Regions from separate parts of the Homo sapiens genome. Here regions 1 and 3 are each linked to region 2. Evidence: fine-mapped expression QTL. A gene starts in region 2. Each other region holds a variant in brackets. All regions are shown on one strand. Distances are between the middles of the regions.

Region 1 (8,177 bases), 270 kb after region 2:
TCCCAGCTACTTAGGAGGCTGAGGCAGAAGAATCTCTTGAACCTGGGAGGCAGAGGTTGCAGTGAGCCAAGATCATGCCACTGCATTCCAGCCTGGGCGACAGAGTGGGACTCTGTCTCAAAAAAACAACAACAACAACAACAAAAACAAAACAGAGAGAGAGGCTGACGAATCTAGTTTCTCAGAGATAAATGCTTAATAGAAACTTATGCACAGAAGCCATACCTTGGTTGGTCACGAGATGGTGGTTTCCATGCCCGCCCTCCAGAAAGTATCCTTTGTATAACAAGTTTTTAGGGGAAAACATGTGCAGCTGGTCACACCTCAGACTTTATTGCAAGTTTCATGACCACTGGGGAGGTTAGATAAGCATCTTTATGAGGGGTTATTTATGCTACAGGCATTCTTTCTTTTCTTTTTTCTCTTTCTTTTCCATTTTGTTTTTTTTTTTAGACAGAGTCTGGCTCTGTCACCCAGGCTAGAGTGTAGTGGCATTATCACAGCTTATTGCAGCCTCAACCTCCCGGGCTCAAGCTGTCCTCCCTCCTCAGCCTCCTGAGTTTGCTGTGACTATACCCCTGGCTAATTTTTTTTTTTTTTTAAGAAAAGTCTCAGTATGTTGCCCAGGCTGGTCTCATACTCCTGGGCTCAAACAATCCTCCTACCTTGGCCTTCCAAAGTGTTGGGATTATAGGCATGAGCCACCCCACCTGGCCAGGCATCTTTTTTTTTTTTTTCTTTTGAGACAAAGTCTCGCTCTGTCCCCCAGGCTGGAGTGCAGTGGCAACCTCTGCTCCCGGGTTCACACCATTCTCCTGCCTCAACCTCCTGAGTAGCTGGGACTACAGGTGCCTGCCACCATGCCCGGCTAATTTTTTGTATTTTTTAGTAGAGACGGGGTTTCACCGTATTAGCCAGGATGGTCTCAATCTCCTGACCTCGTGATCCTCCCGCCTCAGCCTCCCAAAGTGCTGGGATTACAGGCATGAGCCACTGCGCCCGGCCCAGGCATTGTTTCTTGACCTTGCCACAGGAATGCCTTGGTATGCAGGAGTCAAACATCAGTCATTATGGCAGTTTTGCTTCAAGGTGGTGCCATTCTTGCAACAGGGTCTTTTCCTACAGAGGAACATCGACAAACTGCAATGCTCCCTAGAGGAGGGGTCCAGGGTGAGCAGGCTCAGATCGAGTTATTTGAAGACAGGACAAGACAATAAGATTGTTTTCCATAGAAAAGAGATTTAAGAGAGACCCGGTTGGCTTTAAAATATTTGAAGGAGTATTGGGTAGAAAGCTGAGACACACTGAAGTACAAAGGACAAACTAGGACCAATGGCAGGGAGTTTCAGGAAGACCAATTACCATTCAGTGTTAAGAACTTTCTAATAGCTGTTCAACAATAGGGTGGCCTTGTAGAAGATAGTAATTCCCTGTCACTGGAGGTGTGTCAGCAGATGTCAGAAAGGTTGTAAAGGGGATTCCTGCATTGTGTAGAAAGTTGGATCAGGTCACCCCTAAGGTCCTTTCCAATTATGAAAATCTGTGGTTGGCTACTGGAGACCTATGGGGGCTTGCTGCTGTTAAGTCAGCCCTGGTCTCCCCAGCATTTGGGAGGGAGAGCTGGTGAGTTCTTCTTTCTCCTCCCTAGATAATAATGACAAACACCTGATCACCTACCAGTCAGTGGTCAGAGGCAGAGCCCTCCAACAGTTCTTATCTTAGCTCAACCCTGAGGGACAGACTCTTGGGTTGGAAGATCACAAAAAGGTCGCTCTTGTGCTGTTTTATGTTCTCTGAACGTGTACCTTGAGACAAGGACCTGTATGTAGGTGGCTGATTTTAGGGGGTGAGCAGGAGTGAGGGAGGGAGGAGAATGAGACAGCTCCCTGTGTTGAGTAGGTCCACTGTGGGTAGTTAGGGCTGTCGCCCTGGGATCACTCTGAGGAGACATAAAGATTATGGCTTAGGCTAAGCGCGGTGGCCTGTAATCCCAACACTGTGGGAGGCTGAGGCGGGTGGATCACCTGAGGTCAGGAGTTCGAGACCAGCCTGGCCAACATGGCAAAACCATGTCTCTACTAAAAATACAAAAATTAGCCGGGTTGGTGGTGTGTGCCCATAGTCCCAGCTACTTGGGAGGATGAGACAGGAGAATTGCTTGAACCCGGGAGGCGGAGGTTGCAGTGAGCCGAGATGGAGCCACTGCACTCCAGCCTGGGTGACAGAGCGAGACTCCGTCTCAAAAAAAAAAAAAAAAATATTACAGCTCAGAATTTTGCCACTGACTGACGGGGCACATCTGGGCTGCAGTTCCACCAGTGCCCATCCTTCATTGGTTGAGGTTTGCTCTTTGGAGGTATTAAGCCCCTGCCACTTTCAGGCAGCCCTGCAGGGGCTAAGAAAAGCCTCACGCAGAGGAGAGAGGAGGGAAACTGAGCATGTACCAGAAGCATCCGCTGCAGCTGCGGCTGGTCACAGAAATGGGCTGGAGGGATGTGAGGCAGCGCGTGAGCATCTGGCACAGTCTCTTTCCCGCCCAGGCCAGGATCCGCCTTCCAGGGCTGTGCGGGACCTTTGGTTTTGACATTTTGGTCTCTGTGGCCCAGTGTGGGAAGTGGTTCTCCCCGGGGGTGAGTTCAGCCCAGCCTAGTCTGAATGTCCACACACTGCTCTCTTGGGTTCAAGTCTTCCTTCTTGGCCCAGCTTCTCACTGGGCTCTCTGGACTGAGGGCACCAGGGCAATGGACGCTCCAGGCTGGCACCTGTTCAACACTCATATGTGAGCTTGGAACATGGTGACATTAGGGGCACTGACTCTACTGTCCTTTCACACTGTGGTCAAGGTTAGGATAGATGAGAGACTGGCCCGGCCCCAGAGTTTCCTGTATTGACAGCCTAATCATTTTCTAAGAAGAAAATGCTGGGCTGGGTGCAGTGGCTCACACCTGTAATCCCAGCACTTTGGGAGGCCAAGGCAGGCAGATCACCTGAGGCCAGGAGTTGGAGACCAGCCTGGCCAGCATGGTGAAACCCTGTTTCTACTAAAAATACAAAAAATTACCCAGGCATGGTGGCAGGCGCCTGTAATCCCAGCTACTCGGGAGGCTGAAGAAGGAGAATAGCTTGAACCCAGGAGGCGGAGGTTGCAGTGAGCCGATATCACGCCATTGCTCTCCAGCCTGCACAACAGAGCGAGACGCCACCTCAAAAAAAAAAAAAAAGAAAAAGAAAAAGAAAAAAATGCTAAGAAGAACGACAAAGAATTCAAAGACCCTGAGAAGCCTCCCTCAAAGCCTTGGAGACACTTCAAAGATGGGAAATCATGGCACTGATGTTAGAGGCAGTGTTCCCTGCCAGGCACTAAAGGCCAATCCAGTTGGCCCAGCCCTCCTGTTACCACTCCTCTGGATTG[C/T]CCTAGTCAGAGCTCTGAGCCTGTCTCTCTCTTCCCTGATCCCTTCTCCCACCCTCTGGGCCCCACACTCTTGTCTGGTACTCACTGTTCAGTCTGTCTTTTCCCTCCTCTTGCCCATTCATTACCTCCAGGGGCATCATCATCTCTGAGGTTCACACTTATTCCCTAGATTTTGCCGCAATTTGAAAATCAACCCTTCACACTGTTCCAATGCCCATTTCACCACCTGGGCGAAGTGAGGCTGAGTAGGTATTTATGATGAGTTTGGGGTGACATGGAATCAAGGGCAAGGAGCGGGGTGTGTGTGTGTGTGTGTGTGTGTGTGTGTGTGTGTGTGTGGCAACAGTTTGATCACTCTTATTAGGGGAGGGCCCCTCTTAAGGTGGCAAATGTTGTCCAGCCAGAGGAACAGCCTGGCCAACAAATCAACTCAGACAGACCCTGCCTGACATCTCAGAGAGCAGGAGGCCAAGAGAGACCTATTGGGCAAGGAAATTTCCTGGGATGGGAGCAGGGGCAGCGGAGAGCTGACTGCCTTGGTCTCTGCTTTTCCTCTCTTCCTCTGCCTGGCCTCTTGCTGTGGTGCCACGGGCCCCCGTGTCCCCTGTGCCTCCGTTTGTCTCTTGTCTCTGTCTCAGGCTCCACTTTGCTTTATTTTTCCTGCAGTCCTGCACGGCTGAGGCTGTGTCGACACCTCACTTCCTCGCACCTTCGCACTCTCGGTGCTCCTATGTATGCCTGTCTCTCTTTGACTCTGTTAGTGTGTGCCTCTGACTGTATCTGTCTATCTTCCTCGTCTCTGTCGGTCTGTCTTATTCCCATAGGCCCTGTAACTCCAGAACCCCTGGCAGCAGCAGCTTTTCTGAGGATGGAGCGTGGGACAGCCACCAGTGTGCTGAGCAGAGGTGGCGAAGGACATTTCCAGCCCAGCAGTCGTCATGGTAACAGCCAGGGCGGGCCAGGCAGGGATGTGCAGAACCATGTGGGATTGACCTTTCTGTGGTGTCAGGTTTGAGCGGGAGCTGGGGAGAAACAGCAACAACTACTTCCCTCTGGCCCAGCCCTCAGGGCTTCTGGGCTGGGCTGAATGAAGAAAGGGAGAAGCTGAGAAGTGGGACAGCTGGCGAGAGAGCCAAGAGAGAGACAGGGCTTTAGTCAGAGCCAGCTAGAGAACCCATGGGAAGAGGGACAGGCTGGTCACCAGCAGGCTCCTGCGGTGAGCCCACCTGTGGCAAGCACTAGACCTCAGGCCCCCAGTTGGCAGCGCTCATGGGTGGGTACTAAAGGTCAGTTCCCTATACTCAGAGCTCCCCCAGACTCCTTCAGATCAAATGTCACCTTTTCCATATTGCAAAAGCCTTTATTGCTCTAAGGAAAACATGCTAAATTAAAAAGAACCAAATTATTCTTTTAAAAATAGAAATATTTTAAATGGAAAAGTTCAAAGAAAATAAAAGGCTTTCCAATCCTCCCTCTGCTTCTCCCAGCTCTAAAATTCCTCCACAGTTGCTTCCCATGCCTGCCAGGTTGGAGGAAAGGGACAGGCCTGGGCCCAGCGGCCTCTTCTCTGACAAGGGCACAGAAAGGGAAGCCGGATTGGTCGTTGCCTGAATTTGAGGGGGGCTTGGACTCACAGGCTTCCCGCTAATTCGAACCAGTGAAGGAGACTCATTTCCCTCTATGCCCCCTCTTTCTCCTATTGGGGCGGACATACAGGCAGCAGAAAGAGGTGCCCACAGGTGCCCTGTGACCCCTTGAGGGAGAGGCGAGGGGTGCAGGGCAGCCTCAGGTGAGCTCCATGGAGAACATAGCTTACCAGTGGATCCCATTTCCAGACTTTCAAATCATGGCCATGCAAGAGATCTCGAGCTTTCTGGGACACACTGCTATGGAAAACAAGACCATAGCCTCAGAATAAAAAATGTGGTCTTCTTATTTACTGAAAATCTACCTTCAGGAAAGACATGAAGGGGGCACTCACCAGCCAATAGGTGGGTAACTTAACACAGCAGCACCACAGGCTTTCTTTTATACAGGAGTACAGTCCCCAAATCCCCTTGGAGAACTGCCTCTGGGCCACTTGTACAGGGGAAGGGGACACTTGGCAGGAGAGGGGACCGCAGACCTTGTAGTCATAAGTTAGCATGCTGCTAAAAGACTATTTGAAATGAGTGCTGATTACATATATTTAAAAGTGGTCAGCATTACTGAAGCTCCAGCTTTTTTTTCTGAGGCGGAGTCTTACTCTATCACCCAGGCTGGAATGCAGTGGCACCATCTCGGCTCACTGCAACCTCCACCTCCCAGGTTCAAGCAATTCTCCTGCCTCAGCCTCCCCAGTAGCTGAGATTACAGGTGCCCACTGCCATGCCTGGCTAATTTTTCTATTTTTAGTAGAGACGGGGTTTCACCATGTTGGCCAGGTTGGTCTTGAACTCCTGACCTCAAGTGATCCGCCCACCTCAGCCTCCCAAAGTGCTGGGATTACAGGCATGAGCCAACGCGTCTGGCCAAGAGCCAGCATTTTTGAGACTCGAACCTTTCTCTGACTGACATGTATTGTGGAGCTCAAAATAAACATTCTGTATTTTGGGAGTTGGTCATCACTCTCTAGTTATGCTCCTGTAGAGCTATTACTGAACCTCTGGCCTCTTCCCTGGGTTCTGGAAACCTTCATGTACCCGTGGCCCCCAGAGCAAGGGGTAGGAGACAGGAAGGCTGCTAGTGCCCCGATGGTCCCACACGAGGCTGGGACCTTGGGACACAGGCACTGCATCATTCACTGTTCCCTGCATGGGCTTCAGGAGTGGATGAGAGCCCAGGGCCAAGCCCCTTCCTCTTTCGTTCTGCCCAAGCCCCTTCCCTCCAGCTGCCTTCCCTCCTTGAGTCCCTTGATTCCTCTGTGATCCCCCCTCCAGCTCAGCACCTGGGGCTGGCACCACTCCCCAGGGATACTGATAAAGTCACAGAGCATCTGCCCAGCGCCTGAGGTGGTGTAAGTTGGGGAAGGTGGGTCATCCTGTTAGTTGCTCCTGCCAGGCCTGGAGCCCCTGGTGGTCCTTTAGAATTCTAGATTCTCTTGGTTCCTTTCTCCAGAATCCTTCCCTTCTCGCTCCACTCATGCTCTGGGCCAGGCCCACCACGTCTCCTGGCAGCTGACTATCTCATGCCACCTGCCTTTGTTCTCTATTCCCTTTGCCAAAACCATATTTTCTGGTGAATCCCTCTTCTACTTCAAGGTTCAGTTCAAGTGCCACCATATAAGTGAAGCTGTCCTCAGTCGACCCTAGGTGACTCTGTGGCCCCATGGAACTTTTTCTCATCACCATCGTAGCAGTCATGACTCTGTTTTGACCTCCACTTCTCCACTGGAGAGTGTGTTCCGTGGAATGAACTGGCTTGTAGTGTGACCTGTGAACCTCCAGAGCTTGGCTCTGTGTTGCTCATTGAGTACTTGTTCTTGCAGTGGGCCCTTGCCAAGAGAGGCCCCTGTTCTGGGATGTGAGCCAGAGAAGGTCCGAGACTCATAATTTCATGTGTCATACTCGTCCTCCACCCAGCTCCCCCTGGCCAGATCACAGCCCCCTCCTGCTGCAGGGCCTGTAGTGCCAGGCTGGTTGCAAGACAGGGGTCCTCACCTCTGAGAAAATCATGGCTTGGCCCATTGGCACCCCACCTGGGATGCAGAATGGAGCAGCAACAGCTGGCTGGTGTCTGAACGCTATTTCCCCAGCCCTGGGCAGCCATCTCCTGTAGCTGTTCCCTCATCCCATGGCTTTACCAACCCCTCCTTGCTGCACTGGAGAGCCTGAGAGCAAGTAGGTTCAGAGTGGGAAGACAGGGCTAAAGGCATCTTCCCGGTCTTCTCTCCTTCCCCTTCCTCCCAGCAGTTGCAGCTGTGCTGCGTGATGATGTGGAACAGAGCACAGTCTTAATTACTGCTCAGCCCTGCTCATTAGTGCTTCTGGAAGCCCAAGAAGCCAGAGTTAGGAAGCCTCAATCACAGTGGAGACCCAGGCTGCAGGCCTCCTGGGTGATCGCTAGTCCTGTGTCTCCTGGTGACTTGGGACCCCTTTGGGGGACTCCAGCAAAAGACACTCCCTCCAACCCTGAGACTGGGGAAGGGCTGAAGCTGGAGGGAGTCACTGCTGGATTAAGGGAGTCGCTGCTGGATTAACCTTCCTCATGGGCAGCTCTGATCAAATACCTATGTTTCTCTTGCTGACAGCATAGAGTCTGGAGTCCTTGGCTTAGCAGTCAAGCTCCTCCACAATTTGGTCCCACAGGACTTTCCCAACCTGATTTCCTCCTTCAATCCTGGCAGACAAGGAGGGAAGGCAAAGGCTAGGCCCCCTCATGGGCTCTCACTAGTGTGTGCAGAGCATTTCAGGGACAGCATATGGTGGAACGTGTGAAACTCCACTGCAATCAGAGAAAGATGAACGAATGATTAAATAAACCACATGTGCTCAAATCCCGCACACTGATGACTTCCCTGCTTTTGGAGAGACTTAGCAAGGAGCCTGGTGTGTTGTTCAGCATGCACTATTTTTTTTCTTTTTTTTTTTTGGTTGTGAAAAGGAATAAAGAACCATGAAGTGCCTGAAGACTGAACGAAAGGAAGCTGAGTGGAGGAGGAGAGAAGGGGCGGGCCCTGAAAACTATAAATCTATAGGCCCAATTTCAATATGTGGAAAAACTCCTTCAAAATATAAATTTGTAAACACCCTAGATCAAATGAGAGAATGCTCATGAAAGCACTTTT
Region 2 (8,149 bases):
GACCTCGTGATCCACCCGCCTCAGCCTCCCAAAGTGCTGGGATTACAGGCGTGAGCCATCATGCCCAGCTTTTCTCAACCCTTTCTAATCACAGATCATCAGCTTTTTGCTCAGCACTAGCGCCTATGGTTTCTATCACAAATAAAATTAGTATTCCTCCATTTTTCCAAATGTAAAAAACTAATAATTTTACCCATGTCTTTTCCAACCACATCCATCCCCATCTACCTGATATTTTAACATTCTGCCCTAAGGGTGGGCGTCCTATGGTTTGAGAATCACTGCCCTAAAGGATCAAGACATGATAAGGCCCAGGTTCAGCCGATCTCTTTGCCTTTCAGGGCAGGAATTAGCATCTCCTGGGATTAGCACAGAGAGGGCAATGAAGGAAGCTAAGAGCTTGTATATCACTGGGCAGGAAGAATTTTACCAGATTAGGTGTGGCTCTGACACAGTCACCTTCAGTTTAGTGTTTCAGAGCAAGAGGTTTAAAATCACAGCTTTAGGTTTAAGTCTCATCTCTGCAGCTTAATAGCTGTGTGACCTTGGTCAAGTTCCTCAAGCTCACCAGGCCTGTTTCCTCATTTATAAAAAAGAATAGTATGTACCTTATAAGATTTTTTTTTTAAACAGAGTCTTGCTATGTTGCCCAGGCAGGTCTTAAATTCCCCAGCTCAAGCTATCCTCCCTCCTGCCTCTGCCTCCTTAAGTGCTTAGGATTACAGGCGTGAGCCACACCTGGCCTCATAAGATTATTGAGGATATTCAATGAGATTGTGCCTCTAAAGCAGGACTTCTCAATCTTAGTTCTCTTGACACTTTGGACCGGGTAATTCTTCATCATGATGTGCTGTCCTGTGACATAGTAGATTTAGTAGCATCCCTGGCTTCTATCCTGTAGGTGCCAGTAATATCCTCTGGGTTGTGACAACCAAAAAGTCTCTAAATGTTGCCACAAGTAGCCTGGGGGCAAAATCATCCTTTGTTGAAAACCACTGCTCTGAAGCCTTCAAACAGCACTGTCCAACAGAATGTTCTATGATGATGGAAACATTCCATATCATGTTCTATATCTGTGCTGTCCAAGATGGTAGCCATGAAGCCCATATGGCTACTGAGCATTGAGATGTGGCTGGTTTTACTAAATAGCTTCTTCCTCCTTATCAACATCATGATTGCAGAGAATATTCACTGAGTACTCACTATGAGTCAGGTATGTTCCCAAGCACTTATTGGATTATCTCGTTTACTCCTCCTGATTTCCCTGTGAGGTAGGTTTTTCCATACATACCTTCATTTTACACATGAGGAAAGTGAGACTTAGGTCAAGTAACTTGTCCAGCATCACACAGCTAATACGTGGTAGAAATGGGAATCACTGTCTGATTCTAAAGCCCGTGCACTTAAACACTAGGCTTACACTGGCTCCCTTTGGAGTAAGCACTCAATGAATGGTAACTCTTATAACGTTGATCACTCTCCGATTTATATTCATCTCCCAGAGGGTGGACAGCAGAGCCTCTCCAGTCTGGGGAAAGAGGTAGGGCAGATTCCTAGGGAGCCAAGTGGAGGGGTTACCTGGGCCTCCTCCTTTCCAGCTTTCATCGATAGCCACCTCAGCTGCCAGCTGCGTTAGCAGATCCTGTGTCTGCTGGGCTTGGGTCCTGGTGTCCGGTGTGTGATGTGCCTGCACAGACGAGGAAACCTCAGTGGAGAGCAGGGGTAGCCCAGAAGCAGTCTAGGTCAGGGATGGATGCTAAGTAGTTCTCAAAGCCCAGGGAAAGGAGAGGGATCCAGGGCCCACATAATCAAGTAGGTCTGGCCGTCCCCAACAGGACTGAGGGGCCACTTTTTCCTGCCCTACCCTATCGTGCTGTTTGTCCCTGGTCCCCGGGTCTGGTAGCAGGCCTGAGGATCAGGAGGTAGGGGTGGGAGGCTTTGCCAACTCCTGCAAAGTACATAAAGTACAAAGGTTGGTGCAAAAGTAACTGAGGTTTTTGCAATTAAAAGTAATGACAAAAACCACAATTACTTTTGTATCACCCCAATACCTGTATCTGGGCTTCTGCTGGGTCCTCCCGCTAGCACCCCCGCTTCTCTCCTAAGCCATAACACTCACCGGCTGGGGGGTTTGAGAAGGTAGAACTCTGCCCTGCAACGCTGCAAGTCGTGCCTCCATTTCCTGGGTGGAAGGGATGGAACCCTGACGTTCATCCTTTAGGGCAGCCAGCCGTGCCTCTATCTCTGCCTGTGAGGGGACTAACTCTGCAATTGGCATGGGGGGAGCCTTGTAAGGGCCAGAGGCATCTCAGTCCCAGAAGCCCTGGACTGTGTCCTCTAGGCAACCCCATCTGCCCCTGCTCACTGGGCTTGTTCTCCTGGCGGAGTCGTGCTAGGCGCTCAGCAATCATCTGGTCTTGTCGTGTCAGTCCCTGGCTCTGGGAAGTGCTGGGCTTTTGCTTGGCTTCCAAGGCTGCCACACGCCTGGCAGGATATGAGATAGAGGCTCTTGAAGAAGGCAGAGGGGAAGAGTGAAGGCACCCACTCACTGTTTCCCATTCAAATCAAATCATTTCTGGGCACTTAGGGAGGCCTCCAATGGGCAATCTGCTGTGCCCCTCACTCATGTCACCCTGCAGCCCAACCTGGCTGACCAGCCAGACGGTCCAGCTGAAAGGACAAGCTCTACCAAGTGCCTGTCCTGGAGAGAGGGCTGAAGAGCTGCTTTACCAGCCCAAGAGGGCAGTCAGGAGCCAGAGAGGAGAGAATTCTCCTGATTCTGTGCTCATTTTATCTAGAAGATGGGGGCAGGGTCTTTCCCTATGGCTCCCTTATCCTTTCCCCAATGCTCTTTGTCTTTTTCTCTTCAGCACTTACTTCTTATAGTTCTGAGGTGGTGACCACTTGGAGGCATTGGCAGAAGACCCTCTACAGAGAAGAAATCTAGTGTTATAAATCCTGCCATCCCACCAGGCAGTGCCCCCCACTCCAAACACTTCCTCGGCTGACTCTCGCGACAGAGTACAAAGCTGTGAGGGCTGGCCAGATGCCCACTGCCATACTTGGCTGAACTTTCACCCATGCCTGCCTCTTACCTGGTCAGGACCTCATGGCATTGCTTGCAGACTTTCTGTTGGGTGTTCCCAGTCCGAGGCACTGCTGCACTGAAGCTTAGGCAGCCTGAACAGAAGGCCCTGCCACAATTCTTACAGCCGTACTACAAGAAACATGAAGCGGGAGATCCCCCTCTCACCCGCCCCTGCAGGCTGCTCCCAGGGACTCTCCAAGCACACACAGAGAGAAGTCACTGAAGTTATGACCAGCTGCTGGGAGGAAGAAGAGGAGTGGGGCCCCTAAGGCCTAGGGATGGTGAGTAAAGCAATTCCTCGGTTTCCAGTACCTTATTCAAGCCAAATGAAGGTTTATACAAAATTCCCATGCTTTCTACCCTGTCTTCAATTCCCTGACCCAGGGATGTAGAAGACAGATAGATAAAGCCCAGTATTTCAGGCCACTGACTCTTCCACAAAGGAGAATCAGAGAGACAGGGCAGAGCCGATGCCTCCTCTGCTCTTGCAGAGATGGAGGGAGGCTTGGCTCAGGATGGGCTAACAATAGCCTCCATTTATTAAGCACTTACTATGTGCCAGGCACTAAACCCAGTACTTAACATTCATCATGTGATTTATTCCTTACAATTTACACACATTATTTTACTTAATCTTGATGCCAACCGTGATTATCCTTATTTTGAGAGGGCCAGAGAGGTTACATAACTTATCCAAACCAAGGTCACCGCCTCAATAAGACAGCAGAGCTCAGATTTGAACGCTGACTCCAAAATCCAGGTTGGTGAATGCTGCACGGTCCTGCCTTCCTGCGTGACACTAATTTACTCCATCTAGTTCCCATCATCTCCTGGTCAGAATCCCTGGCCACAACTGAGGCAGAGGGAACCTGCAGTTTACCAGAGGAATCTGGCAGGTCTGTGATAGGGACAGGACAGTCAGCCTTCACCATGGTGCCCCGGAAGCAGGAGGAAGTGTGGTAATCTAACTCCAGCGACCTGGAGAAGGGCAGGCTGCGGGATGGGGAAGATTTCAGAGCAGAGGGAGTAACGGGCTTGGTGTGATGGACACCGCGCTTCGGAGGAGCAGGGTGGAGAGAAGAAAACCGCCAGATGCTACACTGGGCCGACAGAAAAGAGTAGCTTTGCAAAAACGACGGCAGCGCGCTTTACAGTTTATAGGGAACTCTCACCTAAAGCACTTCAGTGGACCCTCACATAAACCCTGAAAGCGAGAGAATGTTAGCCCCATTTTACAGAAATGGAAACTGAGGATCAATGACTTCATCAAAACCACACAGCTGGAAAGGAGCCGTAAGACCAAGTCTTTGGACGTTAAGTCCCGCGCTTTTCCCTCCTCTCCTCCCTGGCCCTGCAGCCCTCGGGGAGGGAAGACTCGCCTCCTTCTTGAAGAGGGTGAACTTGACAGCGCAGCCGTAGCACCTACTCTCCATGGTGGCTCCCAGCACCGCAGGGTCTGCAGAGCTGAGATCACGCCGGCCAAGTCCTGGGCCCCTTGGACCCTCACCCCAGCTCCGCCCTTCCCTTCCCTGCCCTGCCCCGCCCCACACGCCCACTGGCACTGTCCCGCCGCGACCTAGAGCAGGGAATCCGGACGCTCTCCTGCAGCCAGCGTACGGCAGCGGCGGCAACGGGGGCTGCTGGGAGTCGTAGTTCATTCACGACTGCCGGCCTCCCTCAGAGTCAGTCAAGCCTGACCCAGAACACAATTCCCAGAGGGCTAGGCGCCGCTCGGAGCCTGCAGTCCTCACGCGCGCTTAGACTCTTGGGAGTTGTAGTACGAATCCGTCAGGCCGGAACCATGGCAGTGACCAAGGAGCTCTTACAGATGGACCTGTACGCGCTGCTAGGCATTGAGGAGAAGGCAGCGGACAAAGAGGTGAGAACGGTGGCGAGGAAGGCTGATCTTGAGAGGTCTGGCGGTCCTTCCTGTCCTAGCGCCTCGGCCACTGCTGGCATCCGCTCTCCAGGTTCATTCGGGTCCTGGGCGGGGAGCGAGGGTCGGCGCTATGCCCTCCGCAGGCGGGCTCCCAGACATTTCCTGGACGGTCCGAGGGCCTCAAGAGGAAGCGGGGTACAGAGGGCTCTTCGCGCCGGGTGGCTGTGCTCTCCCCGTGGCCCCTGTCTCCTAGAGGCCGCGGGGCGAGGCAGCAAGGAACGCTAGCCTCCTCTGCGCCTGCGCAGTCTCGGCCTCCGTTTCCGCTTCTGCCTTGACTGTGACAAGAGGTGCCTCATTTCAGTCTCTTCTGCAGGCTGATTTAATTCTTCCACTAAGAGCCTAGAACGAAAGAAAAGTAAGATCTCAAAGCCTCTCCACTCCCTTTTCATGCCCCCTTGCCAATGTGACCGATGACCCTGCTGTCTCTATTTTCTTTTCCACTCAAGCCCATTGACTCTTTTCAAGTAGCTGATGCCCTTCTCAGCATGTGCTAGTTAGTGGGCTAAAAGCAGGAGGATCAGAAGGTTAAGGCAGATGGTATAGAGGTCCATGCTACCTTAGGTGGTGATAAAGATGCCAGGGAGTGAAACACTGATCAAGCTGGATTTAGGATTTCTTTTATCTCCCCCTGGATCATGGTGGTAGTTTTAACAATATACGAAGGAGAGGCGTTCATCAAATGAAAATTAGTGCCCAACTGAGCCGAGATCGCGCCACTGCACTCCATCCTGGGCGACAGAGCAAGACTCTTTCTCAAAAAAAGAAAGAAAGAAAGAAAATTAGTGTCTACTAGGCCGGGCGCGGTGGCTCACGCCTGTAATCTCAGCACTTTGGGAGGCCGAGGCGGGCGGATCATGTGGTCAGAAGTTCGAGACCAGCCTGACCAATATGCTGAAACCCCTTCTCTACTAAAAATACAAAAATTAGCCGGGCGTGGTGGCACACACCTGTAGTCCCAGCTACTTGGGAGGCTGAGGCAGGAGAATCACTGGAACCCGGGAGGCGGAGGTTGCAGTGAGCTGAGATTGCACCACTGCACTCCAGTCTGGGCGACAGAGCGAGACTGTCTCAAAAAAAAAAAAAAAAAAGGAAAAAAAAATAGTGCCCACTAATGTCCCAGTACTTCTGGGCTGCCCTGCTCATGGGGTGAGTGAGCTTTTGAGAAGAGGAAGCTCTGGGGCAGAAAATCAGAGAGACCCAGAGGGCCCTTGAGAAATGCTGTCAACCTGCACAAATCTGTCCCCTGCAGCCGCAGCTGAAATCAGAAATGGCCATGGGATGTCTATGAAGCATCAAAAGCATCTGCTCCACCTCTCTCGTGTTTCAATATTTTAGGATTAATAATTCCTAACATCTGTATAATGCTTACTATGTCCTAGACAGTATTTTTTTTTTCTGGATAGTATTCTAAGTGCTCTATGTTTACAAATTATTATTTTTTAAATTCTTTATTATTATTATTTTTTATTATTGTTTTTGAGACGGAGTCTCGCTCTGTGGCCCAGGCTGGAGTGCAGTGGCGCGATCTCGGCTTACTGCAACCTCCGCCTCTCGGGTTCACGCCATTCTCCTGCCTGAGCCTCTCCAAGTAGCTGGGACTACAGGCGCCTGCCACCATGCCCGGCTAATAATTTTTATTTTTAGTAGAGACGGGGTTTCACCGTGGTCTCGATCTCCTGACCTCGTGATCTGCCCACCTCAGCCTCCCAAAGTGCTGGGATTACAAGCGTGAGCCACCGTGCCCGGCCTATTATTATTTTTTGAGACGGAGTCTCGCTCTGTCGCCCAGGCTGGAGTGCAGTGGCGCAATCTCAGCTTACTGCAACTTCTGCCTCCCAGGTTCAAGCGATTCTCCTGCCTCAGCCTCCGGAGTAGCTGGGACTACAGGCATGTACCACCACGCCCGGCTAATTTTTTTTTTTTTTTTTTTTTTGAGACAGAGTATCACTCTTTGGCCCAGGCTGGAGTGCAGTGGCATGATCTCGGCTCACTGCAACCTCCGCCTTCCTGTTTCAAGTGATTCTCCTGCCTCAGCCTCCCAAGTAGCTGGGATTACAGGCACCCGCCACCACGCCCAGCTAATTTTTGTATTTTTAGTAGAGACGGGGTCTCACCGTGTTGGCCAGGCCAGTCTTGGATTCCTGACCTCGTGATCTTCCCACCTCGGCCTCCCAAAGTGCTGGGATTACAGGTGTGAGCCACTATGCCCTGCCTGCAAATTATTTAATTAGTACTTTATTAATAGTGAGAAACTATTTGAGACATTTCACAAAAGATCCAAGTGGGAAATCTGGAGGGTTTTTTTTTGAGACGGAGTCTCACTCTCTTGCCTAGGCTGGAGTGCAGTGGTGCAACCTTGGCTCACTGCAACCTCTGCCCCCCAGGTTCAGGGAATTCTCCTGCCTCAGCCTCCTGAGCAGCTGGGATTACAGGCATGTGCCACCACACCCAGCTAATTTTTGTGTTTTTATCAGAGACAGGGTTTCACCATGTTGGTCAGGCTGGTCTTGAACTCCTGACCTCAAGTGATCTGCCGGCCTTGGCCTCCCAAAGTGCTGGGATTACAGGCGTGAGCCACCGCGCCCGGCTGAAATCTAGAGTTTCTAACCCTGAAGTTGAGAACTCCTGAGGAAGTCAGTTGGAAGTCATTCTCTATTAATTAGAGAAGTTACATAATCAGATTTTATTTTTTTTTTATTTTTATGTCTATTTTTTGAGAAAAGATCTCACTGTCATTCAGGCTGGAATGCAGTGGCACAATCACAGCTCACTGCAGCCTCGACTTCCTGGGCTCAAGTGATCCCACCTCAGCCTCTCATGTAGTTGGGACTGCAGGTGTGCATCATCATGCCTGGCTAATTTGTTTTGTGTTTGTTTTTGCTTTTTTTTTTTTTCCAGAGACGGGGTCCAGCTATATTGCCCAGGCTGGTGTCGAACTCCTGGGTTCAAGCTATCCTCCTGCCTGGTCTCCCAGAGTGCTGGGATTGCAGGCATGAGCCACTGTGCCCTGCCCATAATTGGATTTTAAAGAAAGTATTTGACTGAGTGTGATGGCTCACACCTGCAATCCCAGCACTTTGGGAGGCCAAGGTGGAAGGAACGCTTGAGGCCAGGAGTTTGAG
Region 3 (8,177 bases), 69 kb after region 2:
CAATTCTCCTGCCTCAGCCTCCCCAGTAGCTGGGATTACAAGCACATGCCATCATACCCGACTAAGTCTTGTATTTTTAGCAGAGATGGGGTTTCGCCATGTTGGCTAGGCTGGTCTTGAACTCCTGGCCTCAACTGATTCACCCACCTAGGCCTCCCAAAGTGCTGGGATAACAGGCATAAACCACTGTGCCTGGCCAGTTAACTGTCTAAAATGGATTTGTCTACCTTTCTATTGTAAGTACAGCCTTACAAATATTATTGAATCCTTGATAATGTATACTCAAACAGTACCTCAAAGTTAACATTCTAAACATTTGTAGAATTCTGTCAATGGAGAAAGAACAGACCAATTGAGTAGGATGTCTCTGTAGACCCTCAGAAAAATTCCTGGAAGTTTTAACAAAAGATGCTTATTTATGATTACTTTTTCTCTCCAAAAGTTTGTTTTCCCTCCTAAATTTCAGATGAGGATTCTCAGCTTTTGGGCTGATTTTTGGACTCTTCATGTCAACAACCTTTCCTTTCCCTCTTGATCATTGGTCATCTCTTATTAGTGCTAGTAGCCAGCATGAACCCCAAAGACAGAAGTGGAGGCAGTGGTTAGCAGGGCAGCACTTGGTTGGTCTGGCCTCCTGAGCTTAGCACCCATGGACAAAGCTTTACCTGCTGGAGGTCAGATGACTATGGAATGTCTTTGAAGGTTCTGCTCTGAGATCACAGCCTTTAAGAATTATCCTTACTGGGTATAAAGTTTATTTCATTGTATCTCTAGGAGCTGGACCACCAGGAGGCAGTCATTCTGTGGGGTCTCAGGCAATGTCTTGTCTACAACACTGTCTGTCTAGCTTGGCAGGAACTAGTTGTCTCATTCTTTGCTATTATTTTCCTAGTGAGACAGTACTTTGAAGAGGGCAGAGAGAAATCCCCAAAGAGGCAGCGTCCCTCATTGGTGGGGCCATGTGGTCCCTCTCTTTGGGAAGAGAGGTAGAGTCTTTCACAGCATCAGTTGTCTTAAGAATGCATTTGTGGCCAGGTGTGGTGGCTCATGCCTATAATCCTAGCACTTTGGGAGGCCAAGGCAGGAGGATTGCTTGAGCCCAGGAGTTAGAGACTAGCCTGGGCAATATAGTGAGACCTTGTCTCTACAAAAAAAAAAAAAAAAACTTAAAAAATTAGCCAGGCATGGTGGTGGAACATGCCAGCAGGAGGATTGTTTCAGCCCAGGAGGCAGAGGTTGTAGTGAACTGAGATTGCACCACTGCACTCCAGCCTGGGCAACAGAGAGAGACCCTGTCTCAAATAAAAAAAGGAAAACATTTCAGATTAGCCAGTTTACCACCTCAATGCATTACATTTGTTCCATTTTCTCCATGTTCCCTTCCAAACTTGTTTTCTTCAAAGAATTCTTGGCTGGGCACGGTGGTTCGCACCTGTAATCACAGCACTTTGGGAGGCTGAGGTGGGCGCATCACCTGAGGTCAGGAGTTTGAGACCAGCCTGGCCAACAAGGCAAAACTGTCTCTACTAAAAATACAAAAATTAGCCAGGTGTGGTGGCACACACCTGTAATCCCAGCTACTCGGGAGGCTGACGCAGGAGAATCACTTGAACCTGGAGGCGGAGGTTGCGGTGAGCCTAGATCGTGCTATTGCACTCCAGCCTGGACGACAGAGTGAGACTCTTGTCTCAAAAAAAAAAAAAAAAAAAAAAAAAATCCTATGTTGCAGTGTCTTCTCCAGTGCATAGGCATGATGGTCCTTATCTGGTGGTCCGTAAGCTCCAGCCTCGATACTCTTAAGTGACGCTTGTCAGAACTTTCATGTTTATGGGCTTTCATTTCTTTGTTAGAACACTAACCTAGAAAACTCGGGTAAGACTAAGTGAACGTCATCTCTGGTCAGACCTCAGTCCATGTGGCTCTTGTGAAAGAGTTTTGGCCTAGAGCTAATTAATATTGTTGGATCGTGGATCCTTTTGAGAATTTTTTTTTTTAAAGAGATGGGGTCTGCCTATGTTGCCCAGATTGGTCTTGAACTCTTGGTCCCAAGCTATCCTCTCCTTGGCCTCTCAAAGTTCTAGGATTACAGGTGTGAGCCAATGTACCCATCCCCTTTAGGGAATTTTTTCAAAGCTGTGATCTCTCTCCCCACTTACTTAAATTTTATACAACTTGAGATTCATGGACACTGCCCCTCCAGAGTAAGGTCTGTTGGGGACAATTTCTGATTGTGTTGGATCCGTTGTTGTTGTTTTTTTTGAGGTGGAGTTCGTCGCCCAGGCTGGAGTGCAGTGGTGCAATCTTGGCTCGTTGCAACTTCTGCCTCCCAGGTTCAAGTGATTCTCCTGCCTCAGCCTCCTGGGGAGCTGGGACTACAGGATGTGCCAACATGCCTGGCTAATTTTATATTTTTAGTAGAGGCAGGGTTTCACCATGTTGCTCAGGCTTGTCTCAAACACTTGGCCTCAAGTGATCCACCCACCTCGGCCTTCCAAAGTGCTAGGATTACAGGCATAAGCCATCGTGCCTGGCTGGATCCTTTTATATTTTAAATGCTAAAATCTGCTTCAAGCACATCAGGTGGGCATTATAAAAAGAAGGTAACTGGGGTTTCTAATGACAGATGGGGAAGCCAAGGTGAAGCAGAAGTCATCCCTGAAGTCTTCCCTTAGAAGCCGTTTGCAGCCTTTTCTGAGACAGTCTTGCTCTGTCACCTAGTCTGGAGTGCAGTGGTGCAATCTCGGCTCACTGCAACCTCTGCCTCCTGGGTTCAAGCGATTCTCCTGCCTCAGCCTTTTGAGTAGCTGGGACTACAGGCGCCTGCCACCACGCCCAGCTAATTTTTGTATTTTTGGTAGAGATGGGGTTTCACTGTGTTGGCCAGGCTGGTCTCCGACTCCTGACCTCAGGCGCTCTACCCGCCTCAGCCTCCCAAAGTGCTGGGATTACACAGCACAGAGGCGTGAGCCACTGTGACTGGCTTCTTTGCGGCCTTTCATTCTGCTCAAGTTCACAACTATTTCCAAACAAGTCCAAGCTGGGTAGGGATTGGTGAGAGCTAAAGCAGTCATTCTTCCCACAAGCCTTCCTATGAAAGTGTGCATAAGAGCTATGTCAACTCTGGATCTACCTTCGTCCTACAGGAAAAGAAGAAGCAGAGGCTGCTCTGGAGAAGGGGGATGAGAGTGCTGACTGTCACCTGTGGTAATAACACCCTGCAGTGTTCTGGGAAGAGCCAGCAAGGGCCAAAGCAGAGGACAGCCCTTTCTTTTCTCTGCCTGGGCCACAGAGGCATTTTCCAAAGGATCCAGGAGAGGGAGTTCTGGCTTGTATCTCCACATGCCTCAGTCTACCCCTAGCCAGAGACAAGGGAAGTTTCTGGTAGGGGAGGTGGCTTAGGGATGAGGCAAGCGGGGAATACAAGCTTTTTTTCTGATGGGGCTTGGAGAAATGAGTAGCTTTGTTAAGAGTCATCCTAGCTACAAAACTGGAGTTCTTGGCTCTCAGGAGGCTGGGACAATCTGCAGCTCCCCTATCCTGCATAAGCTCTTCTTTCCCCTGCGTGTGATCCCTGGCTGCTGGTACTTTGGCTTCTTTGCTTGGTTCATGTGAGGAAAAGTAGATGTGAGCTCACCCCCCAGAAGTTTAGTGGTCAATTTATTAGGCTGCAAAAACATCAGCCCTTTTTGTGGTCTCATGTGAGGCAAAGTTCTGTCAGCTTACCTGGGCCACGGCTAACTCATATCCTGGGGTCTGGTTCCAGCACCTGAGTTTTAGTGAAAATGTTCCTTTCCTTTCCCACCGCCACCCTTGCTTTCCATGTCTCCACCCTCAGACTGTGAGCTAAGTGAGAGGCTGTGTTTCTCCATCTGTTGCTGAAACTTTTGTCTCTGCAAGGGTTCTTCTCAGAGGCCAGGTAACTGTTTCTTGGGTGTCACTGCTTCCCTGGGCTTCCAAGGATGAACAGCTATTCCTGAGGAACAGCTGTTTGGATTAAACATGGAAATGAGCCTCTAGAAGTATCTGATACCCCCCG[GA/A]TACTTAGCATATACATGAAAAAGCAACTTGGGCTGGTTACTCATCGAATGTCAACTGTGCTGCTAGGAACAATGCTGGGGGGATGGGGAAGTAAGACTTTGTTTCTGAAGACAGATGATGGGAAGCTGGCTGGCTGGTTCCCTTTGGGAGGGGGGATGTGGGGGAGAAGGCATATATAGGAGGTCTTTCTTCCTCTGGTTCTGTTGGTTTCCAAGTAACATCAGAAATTCCTAGAATATCCCCTCCCAATGTGACTATCCTAAGAAATTGCTTCCCAAGTCCCAGTGATACACCTGTATGCTTAAAGGCTAATGAGACCCACTTTTTTGTCTGCCCAGAAGATAAGTAGTATAGTCAGGTCTCATACTTTTATGCTGATTGTTTTCATGCTTTTCAAGTTTTTATTAATGCCTGTGGCTGTACTCCTTATGAGTGTAGGAGAGATTTACTGTGTAAGAGAGATTTACTGTGGTGAACCCAGCTTTTTTTATACCTAGAATACTTTGGAGACTTGTAAGCCTACCATTATCTACTAAAGAATACTAATTGGGGCCAGAGGTCCGTAAAGAATGGGGATTACGTACAGATGAAAATTAGGTATTTTCAGCTCTAGTTGAGGGTACAGGGATAGGGGACAATGCAACTAGGCTGTGGTTGGGGCATCCATTCCTTGCAGTGATGGTACTCAGCCCTTGTCCCTGAGCTTGCTGCTTCCCCCCTAGGTATGCGGTGCTTTGTGGTCAGCTGGCTGAGCATGAGAGCATCCAGAGGCGCATCCAGAGTGGCTTTAGCTTCAAGGTGAGGACAGGCTTTTCCTCCTTCCTTGTGCTGGCCTATCCCAGATTCCCCACTCCTTTCCAGCTCCCTGCCAAAAACTTTTCTACAGCCTCAGTGACTTGCCTTTCTTCTTTTTTTTTGAGACAGAGTCTCACTCTATCGCCCAAGCTGGAGTGCAGTGGTGTGATCTTGGCTCACTGCAACCTCCTGGGTTCAAGCGATTCTCCTGCCTCAGCCTCCCAAGTAGCTGGGATTACAGGCATGTACCACCATGCCCGGCTAATTTTTGTATCTTTAGCACAGATGGGGTTTCACCATGTTGGCCAGGACTGGTTTCGAACTCCTGACCTCAGGTGATCCACCTGCCTCAGCTTCCCAAAGTGCAGGGATTACAGGCATGAGCCACTGCATCCGGCCCTTGCCTCTCTTTTAGCAACTCTGGTGTCTGATGTTAGTTTATATTTACATTTTCCCCTTAGGAGCATGTGGACAAAGCCATTGCTCTCCAGCCAGAAAACCCCATGGCTCACTTTCTTCTTGGCAGGTGGTGCTATCAGGTAAGCTGCGTTTCAGTGCTTGACATAATGGTCCTAAATGCCTTCTGACACCGATTTCCTTGCCAGGAAGAACAAGATCCTCAGCCTTCTCTGGCTCAGGTGCCCTTTCTTCTGAATGCTCGTATTATTGGTGGTTCGACCCAGCCCCGTTTGACCCTATTTTCAATATATCCCCAAAGATTTAAAGAAAAAAAACCTTTTAAAACCTCTTATACACACCTTGATCTTTTTGTGGCAGGTCTCTCACCTGAGCTGGCTAGAAAAAAAAACTGCTACAGCCTTGCTTGAAAGCCCTCTCAGTGCCACTGTGGAAGATGCCCTCCAGAGCTTCCTAAAGGTATGAGAGGGGCAGGTGGCAGGCAAAAACACCAGGGTAACCTTGTTTTTTCCTAAGGACATTATTGAGACCCTTAATGGGAGGGGTTTTCCTAGTCGGGGGCAATTTTGTGTTTGCCTGTTCTATGGGAAAACCAGAATCACTTGCACAGCTTATCAAAAATATAGGTTTCTTCAGACCCACTGAATCAGCCACATGGTTGGGGACTAGAAATCTAGTTTAATAAACTTCAGCCTGATTAGAATATAGGAACCTCTTACTGAAATATCTTTGTCCCTTTTCCCAGGCTGAAGAACTACAGCCAGGATTTTCCAAAGCAGGAAGGGTATATATTTCCAAGGTAAACTCATTTGTCTACTTCAACATAGATCTGGGAACTCCTGAAAGTACACAGTATCAGGTTTCACTGTTGTCTCTTTTCAGTGCTACAGAGAACTAGGGAAAAACTCTGAAGCTAGATGGTGGATGAAGTTGGCCCTGGAGCTGCCAGATGTCACGAAGGAGGTAAGGCTTTTTAATACTGCCTGTTGGGCAGATCACCTGAAGTCGGGAGTTCGAGACAGCCTGACCAACATGGAGAAACCCCATCTCTACTAAAATTACAAAATTAGTTGGGCCTAGTGGCGCACGCCTATAATTCCAGCTACTCGGGAAGCTGAGGCTGGAGAATCGCTTGAATCCGGGAGGTGGAGGTTGCAGTGAGCTCAGATCGTGCCATTGCACTCCAGCCTCGGCAACAAGAGCAAAACTCCATCTCAAAAAAAAACCAAACAAAACTGCCTGTCATCACTGAATCATCATGTGACATTTTTAGAAAATAATCTTTCCTAGAGGTCTTATTTCCCTAGTAAAAAAGAGTCTACCTCTAGGGGAAGAGACAGATTTAATAGGCTCCAGGCTATCCTGGGGAAGTAGGAAAAAGACTGTAGCAGAGCTCAGGAAGGAAGCAAAGGGCCCCTCTTCTTAGGTTCCACTGGTTTGGGAAAATGCTGGTTTAAATTTTGAGCCCTAGATTTGTTCTTTGTCTCCCTAGGATTTGGCTATCCAGAAGGACCTGGAAGAACTGGAAGTCATTTTACGAGACTAACCACGTTTCACTGGCCTTCATGACTTGATGCCACTATTTAAGGTGGGGGGGCGGGGAGGCTTTTTTCCTTAGACCTTGCTGAGATCAGGAAACCACACAAATCTGTCTCCTGGGTCTGACTGCTACCCACTACCACTCCCCATTAGTTAATTTATTCTAACCTCTAACCTAATCTAGAATTGGGGCAGTACTCATGGCTTCCGTTTCTGTTGTTCTCTCCCTTGAGTAATCTCTTAAAAAAATCAAGATTCACACCTGCCCCAGGATTACACATGGGTAGAGCCTGCAAGACCTGAGACCTTCCAATTGCTGGTGAGGTGGATGAACTTCAAAGCTATAGGAACAAAGCACATAACTTGTCACTTTAATCTTTTTCACTGACTAATAGGACTCAGTACATATAGTCTTAAGATCATACCTTACCTACCAAGGTAAAAAGAGGGATCAGAGTGGCCCACAGACATTGCTTTCTTATCACCTATCATGTGAATTCTACCTGTATTCCTGGGCTGGACCACTTGATAACTTCCAGTGTCCTGGCAGCTTTTGGAATGACAGCAGTGGTATGGGGTTTATGATGCTATAAAACAATGTCTGAAAAGTTGCCTAGAATATATTTTGTTACAAACTTGAAATAAACCAAATTTGATGTTATCAGCTCTTTATTCTTACTTGACACCTCCATAATTGTTTCTACCTACAGAGGCTGTTGCAGGCAGGTTATGGTTAATGCTCTTTACAGTATATAAAATACAGGTATCGAGCTTATTTTTAGCCTAAACAAGGCCTATTGCAACTAAGCAGGTACTCCCTGCCTTTCTCATGTTCATTTTTAGGGCCACGAGCACAAACCCCTAAATCCACCTAGAAGAAAATTTAAGACTGAGATGCATAGGCCGAGCGTGGTAGCTCATGCTTGTTGCTTGTAATCCTAGCACTCTGGGAGGCCAAGGCGGGTGGATCACTTGAGGCCAAGGGTTTGAGACCAGCCTGGCCAACATGGTGAAACCCCCATCTCTACTAAAAATACAGACAGAAAAAATTAGCTCGGTATGGTGGCGCACGCCTGTAATCTCAGCTACTAGAGAGGCTACAGCAAGAGAATCACTTGAGCCTGGGAGGCAGGGGTTGCAGTGAGCTGAGATCACACCCTTGCGCTCTAGCCTGGGCAACAAGAGCAAACCTCTGTCTCAAAAAAAAGATTGAGATGCTTTCATATAAGAACCAACCCCTTAATCTAGAATGTCACTGTGTCTTTATTATACCAACCCAGATTTTTTTTTTTTTTGCTGGAGTCTCGCTTTGTCACCCAGGCTGGAGTGCAGTGGCGCGATCTTGGCTCATTGCAACCTCCACCTCCTTGATTCAAGCAATTCCCCTG

What was found.
Region 1: its variant is fine-mapped to the expression of DNAJC17 in unexposed skin (GTEx, PIP 0.93).
Region 3: its variant is fine-mapped to the expression of DNAJC17 in whole blood (TOPMed, PIP above 0.99). The same link has a PIP of 0.9 or more in cerebellum and tibial artery.

The regions. Positions count from the first base shown.
Region 1 is chr15:40,535,415-40,543,591 of GRCh38, reverse strand. It overlaps a transcript of CCDC32 not described here. Among named protein-coding and RNA genes, the nearest start is that of CCDC32, 26 kb to the left of the region's middle. The variant C/T (reference allele first, on the strand shown) is at 3,413.
Region 2 is chr15:40,804,187-40,812,335 of GRCh38, reverse strand. It overlaps DNAJC17 (DnaJ heat shock protein family (Hsp40) member C17), which reads left to right and starts at 4,863. Exons shown (of 11, transcript NM_018163.3): 1 at 4,863-4,967. The coding sequence starts at 4,890. It overlaps ZFYVE19 (zinc finger FYVE-type containing 19), which reads right to left and starts at 5,247. Exons shown (of 11, transcript NM_001077268.2): 1 at 4,468-5,247; 2 at 3,096-3,217; 3 at 2,878-2,928; 4 at 2,366-2,484; 5 at 2,120-2,265; 6 at 1,579-1,687. The coding sequence starts at 4,746. RefSeq lists enhancers at 4,215-4,264, 4,895-4,944, 4,985-5,034, 5,495-5,584.
Region 3 is chr15:40,735,160-40,743,336 of GRCh38, reverse strand. RMDN3 (regulator of microtubule dynamics 3) reads left to right here. Exons shown (of 13, transcript NM_018145.3): 7 at 3,144-3,204; 8 at 4,761-4,836; 9 at 5,295-5,372; 10 at 5,611-5,709; 11 at 5,996-6,049; 12 at 6,133-6,213; 13 at 6,743-7,450. The coding sequence ends at 6,796. Among named protein-coding and RNA genes, the nearest start is that of RMDN3, 16 kb to the left of the region's middle. RefSeq lists an enhancer at 1,936-2,808. The variant GA/A (reference allele first, on the strand shown) is at 4,037.